Regions from separate parts of the Homo sapiens genome. Here region 1 is linked to region 2. A link means that fine-mapping ties the variant in region 2 to the expression of a gene that starts in the linked region. Tissue or cell type: whole blood. Region 2 holds a variant in brackets; the other region holds the start of a gene. All regions are shown on one strand. Distances are from middle to middle.

Region 1 (2,678 bases), 44 kb before region 2:
CCTTCAACCTCAAGCCCTTTAGAAGGCCCCATCCCCTGGGGCTCCTTCAGTCTTGATGCTTTCTGCCAAGGCTTAGGCCTTGCTGCCCCCACCCCCAAAAAGGCCACGTGGAACTATACAGAGTAACAATTCCCAGCGCACTCTCTCCAGAGCCTCCTATCAGCAGACCCACGTAGGCGGCGGTATTGATGTTGAGGCAGGTCAGAGAGGGCAAAGGGGAGATAGAAGGGGAGCGTGCCTGAGTGGCTTTCAAGTGGGCGCGTGGAGCAGAGCAGCCTGGCTTTGGACAGGGGAAGAAAGGTAGGCATGGGCTTTCTTCCAGCACCCGAACTCTGGCTCTCTTTGCACTTGCTGGGCCAGCCCCTCTCCCCCTAGCCCTTCCCCTGACTCATATCTTGCCAGCGTCCCCCACCCCAACTTCCCGCAGGAGTCCTAGACTCGACTTCCCTAAGAAGTCGCCGAAACTCTCCAGTCACCCCAGGTGTTACGCCCAGGATTCTGCGGAGTCGGGCATATGGTTCCAAAATTGTATCCTCTGGGCATCTCGCGGCCTCACCCGCCGCACGGCCCGCCCTCCCGCTGGGGCCTGCACACCCCAGGAGCTCAATAATGTGGAGCGCAGGGCTTGGCCCAAAGGCGTCAAGCAAGTCTCCACTTGCACGGGCCGAGGGGGCTGGACGAAACCTTCCCGAGTCCGCGGGGAAGGGATTTCTCTGCGGGGCGTTGTATGGGGGCTTCGCACCGGGAAGGGCGCGGAACGAGCAGAGAGCTCGGAGTCTCGCTGGCTAGAAGCAGAGTGGGGAGCGCCCGCCCGGGCCGCGGCGCACGACGCGGGCTCTGCGGGCGCCCTGCCTCGTGGTCCCCCGGGCGCGAGCGAGCCGCGAGGGGAATGAGAGGCCGCGCGGGCCCCTGGCACGGCTCCCCATGCCGTGCTGGCGACCGCGGCGGGCGGGCCGGGGCGGACGGGCGCTGTTTCCACCGAGATGCCTCGTCCCTCCCTCGTTCCCTCCCCCACCCCGCCCGCCCGCAGTCCCTCCCGTCGGTCCCTCCCTCCGGCTCTTCCCTCCCTCCCGCCCTGCCTCCTTCGCGCCCGCCCCATCCGCCGCCTGCGGGGACGTGTGTGTCTCTACTGCATTTCCCCTTTCGCTCGCTCGTTTCGGTGCATGTCTGCGCCGGTTCGCGCCCCCTCCCCGGGCGCCCCTGCCGCCCCGTGTCTTGGCCCGGCCCTCCCCGGCGTCCGCCCCGCTCCCCGCGCGCTCCACCCCGCCCCCCGCCCCGTTTTATCAGGGGCGCCGCCGTCTCACCTGGTATTTGCATCTCTCCCTCCAACTTGCCATTGGCGGCGCGAAGTGTGGGAGAGCCCTGCGCCTCGCCCGCCCGGACCAGCCTGCCCCGGCGCCGAGGTGAGTCACGGGCGCGGGGTGGCGGGGGCAGGCGGGCGGGGAAGAAGGGCGGGCGGGGAGGAGGGCGGGGGACGGCGGCCCCGGCGGCCGCGGGGACCGACCGGGCGCCGCGCTCAACTTCCACTTCTCCTTTCGCCGGCGCCGAGTTCCTGGCGCCGCTCGCCCGGCCCGGCTTCCGAGGGGAGAGGACGGGCTGGCGGGGCTGGGGACCCGCGTCTCGGCCCCCGGAGCGGGGACCACGGAGACAGACCCCGGCCCGGCGACCGAGCTGGGCCCGTGAGCCACTCGGCCTCAGGTACGTCGATGGCGCCGGTTCTTCGAGCCTTGGGGGACGTGGAAAAGTTTGCTTGAGGGCGGAATCGAGAGCGCCGGGGCCCCGGCGTGGGGCTGGGGGCCCAGGGAAGGGCGGGAGAGTCGCGGAGTGTCGCGAGCCGCCCTGGAGTCGCCCCGCCGCGCGTGTGATGGAGAACCCGGGCTCCCGATCCCGGGATGGAAGTGGAATGGATTCCCCGAGTCGGGGAGTCGGGGTAGGGGCCCCTGTTTTCCCTCGCCCCCGGCAGCCTGGGTTCCGTGACGGGGCCGATCATGACAGCGGGCCCCCAGAAGCTGGGCGCCCGAGGGCAGAGGAGGTGGGGCGGACCGCGGCGGAGCTGCTAGATGGATCCGACTGCCCCCGGGGCTTCTGGGGCCAGGGCTTTAGGGTCACACGCACACACGCGCACGCAGACCTATGATGTGGAGAACTGGATCGCCAAAATAGAGACCTCTTGGCAGGGGCCGGAGTTTCCGTGTGAGCCAGCCGCCAGCCTTCCCGCTCCCGCGTTCCCGCTCTCCCCGACTCTCCCGCCTCCGGGTTCCCTCCTGGGCCGCCGCCTAGGGGATTCAGCAGCCGCACCGTGCGGGGTCCCCTCACGCCAGCGCCTTGCTTTGGAGGCTTGAGGGACTGCTGAGGCGGTGACCGCTTTATGAATTCCTGGCTCCTCCACCGCACCCTAACCCTGACTCCCTTTTCTCACCACCGTATGCCTGCACATCACCTTCCTGACCAGAGTCACCTCCTGACCCCTTGGCACCTCGGCTCAGCGAGGTCCTCCTGGGCCGCCCCCGCCCCGCACCATACCCCAGCTGAGGGATTTGATGGCCATTTGATTCCTGCCCCTCATCCCTCGGCCTGTGATAGAGGCCTGTCTGGTCCTGCAGCCTCTTCTGGTTAATGTTTGACAGTTCATTGTGGCTAATTATTTTAATTAGCTCTTAAAGTGGGAAAGAACAGTT
Region 2 (2,678 bases):
CTACGCTGGCGCAGTGAGACACCCTTTCGAGGAGGGCAGGCAGTAGAGTGGAATGGTGAGGAAGATGAGCTCTGGGATCACAAGACCTAGTTGTGAGGCCCTGCTGTAGTGCTTACTATGTATACTGGCTGTGTAATCACTAGAGCGGGGACTCACATCAAGGCCTTGTGAGACCCCAGCATCCCCACTTGGAAGAAATCAAAGGATAACATAGGTATGGCTGGTCTTGGAGCAAGTTATTAATACATAACCTCTCTGTGCCTCACTTTCCTCAAGCTGTAAAATCAGATTGTTCTTATCCCACTTGTGGGCTGTTTTCAGGATTGAGTGAAATGCCACATGTCAATCATTTAGAATGATCCCTGACCTATATACCTATTCTAAGTACTTAATAAATGTGAGCTACAGCTGAGCATGGTGGCTCACACCTGTAATCCCAGCACTTTGGGAGGCCGAGGCAGGTGGATCACCTGAGGTCAGGAGTTCAAGACCAGCCTGGCCAACATGGTGAAACTCTGTCTCTACTAAAAATACAAAATTAGCCGGGTGTAGTGGTGCTCGCCTATAATCCCAGCTACTTGGGAGGCTGAGGCAGGAGAATCACTTGAACCTCAGAGGCAGAAGTTGCAGTAAGCCAAGATTGCACTACTGCACTCCAGCCTGAGTGACAGAGCAAGACTCCGTCTCAAAAAAAAAAATAAATTAAAAATTAGCTGGGTGTGGTGGCACACACCTGTAGTCCCAGCTACTTGGGAGGCTGAGTCAGGAGGATCGCTTGAGCCCAGGGCTTCAAGGCTGCAGTGAGCAGTAATCGTGTCACTGCACTCCATCCCGGGCAGCAGAGTGAGACCCTGTCTCTAGAAAAAGAAAAAAACAACAAACAGCAAATAAATCGACAAACACCTTCAGCTCCATTCCTCTCGTGCCCTCCTTCCTAACCAGCTGAGGGACACTTCCTGCCTTAACCAACTCTGTTCTCTGTTTCTTCTCAGTGCATCTTCAGTGCCCAGCAACATCCACCTAGGAGTGGCCCCCGTGGGGTCGGGCTCGGCCCTGACCCTGCAGACGATCCCACTGACCACGGTGCTGACCAATGGGCCTCCTGCCAGTACTACTGCTCCCACTCAGCTCGTTCTCCAGAGTGTTCCAGCGGCCTCTACTTTCAAGGACACCTTCACTTTGCAGGCCTCTTTCCCCCTGAACGCCAGTTTCCAAGACAGCCAGGTGGCAGCCCCAGGGGCTCCACTGATTCTCAGTGGCCTCCCCCAACTTCTGGCTGGGGCCAACCGTCCGACCAACCCGGCGCCACCCAC[G/A]GTCACAGGGGCTGGACCAGCAGGGCCCAGCTCTCAGCCCCCTGGGACTGTCATTGCTGCCTTCATCAGGACTTCTGGCACTACAGCAGCCCCTAGGGTCAAGGAGGGGCCACTGAGGTCCTCCTCCTATGTTCAGGGTATGGTGACGGGGGCCCCCATGGAGGGGCTGCTGGTTCCTGAAGAGACCCTGAGGGAGCTCCTGAGAGATCAGGCTCATCTTCAGCCACTTCCAACCCAGGTGGTTTCCAGGGGTTCCCACAATCCGAGCCTTCTGGGCAACCAGACTTTGTCTCCTCCCAGCCGCCCCACTGTTGGGCTGACCCCAGTGGCTGAACTTGAGCTCTCCTCAGGCTCAGGGTCCCTGCTGATGGCTGAGCCTAGTGTGACCACATCTGGGAGCCTTCTGACAAGATCCCCCACCCCAGCCCCTTTCTCCCCATTCAACCCTACTTCCCTCATTAAGATGGAGCCCCATGACATATAAGCAAAGGGGTCAGGGCAAGTGTGACCCACCAGGCAAAATTGAGCAGCATTTTCATAGGGACCGACTTCAGTAGCACACCTGCCCCTGCATTTCAGTGGGATGTCAATACACTTGACCCCAAGTCCCCCGGCCCTGCCTGGTGTCACTGTGGCCAAACAGTGCCCAGCTTAAGCATCCCTGGCATCAGACTATGGCCTTCAAGAGCACTAGGGCATATGCTTTTGGCAGCATAACGGGCTGACTTGGTGATGGAGGGAAAAAGCCTTGAGCCAGGCAGAAGTTTGTGGCCAGGGTTTGTGCAGCAGCTTTGTGAGAAGAGCCCTTCTACCTGGCTCTATCTCACTGGCTGCATTCCCTACACAGGGAATTTACTACCCTATATGTGAATATCCCTGTATGTACTTGTGTGTACTTGTTGGTCTGTATCTTAGTTTCTTTGGGGAGGACAGGGCTGTAGCTGTGAGGTCTTGTCTCCAAGGGTGTGTGTATGTCTCCGTGGATCAGCCACAGGGATAGGGATTTTGTTTTTAAGGGAAAGCATTCTCTAATTCCCTTTGTTCATGCCGAGATTCAGTTGCTCTGAGACTATGGGGTACAAGTTTGATCCTCCGAATCTGGAGATGTTGTAGAGCTGGAACGAGTGCAGAGTAGGAACGCTTTGATGCGCATGCACATTGGGGAAGATGCGCTCCTCAGGGACACAAAGGCCGAGTGGGGTAAAACCACGAAGGGAGGGAAGGGAAGTCAGCTCTGGGAGCAGCCCTCACTGGCTGGACCAAGGTACTCTTCCTGGAGTTTGCCGTGTTAGCAACCACAGTCACCTTGCAGTCAGGCTGGAATCTTGGGCCACCCCAAAGTGCTTTGCTGAAGGATTTAGACGG

What was found. PIP is the estimated chance that this variant, and not a neighbour inherited with it, causes the effect.
Region 1: it holds the start of ELF4, and the variant in region 2 is fine-mapped to the expression of ELF4 in whole blood (TOPMed, PIP above 0.99).

Annotation. Positions count from the first base shown.
Region 1 is chrX:130,109,345-130,112,022 of GRCh38, reverse strand. It overlaps ELF4 (E74 like ETS transcription factor 4), which reads left to right and starts at 1,526. Exons shown (of 9, transcript NM_001421.4): 1 at 1,526-1,698. It also overlaps a transcript of RAB33A not described here. RefSeq lists silencers at 795-914, 985-1,034, 1,045-1,094, 1,345-1,494, 1,575-1,644.
Region 2 is chrX:130,065,840-130,068,517 of GRCh38, reverse strand. ELF4 (E74 like ETS transcription factor 4) reads left to right here. Exons shown (of 9, transcript NM_001421.4): 9 at 993-2,678. The coding sequence ends at 1,797. Among named protein-coding and RNA genes, the nearest start is that of ELF4, 43 kb to the left of the region's middle. The variant G/A (reference allele first, on the strand shown) is at 1,314.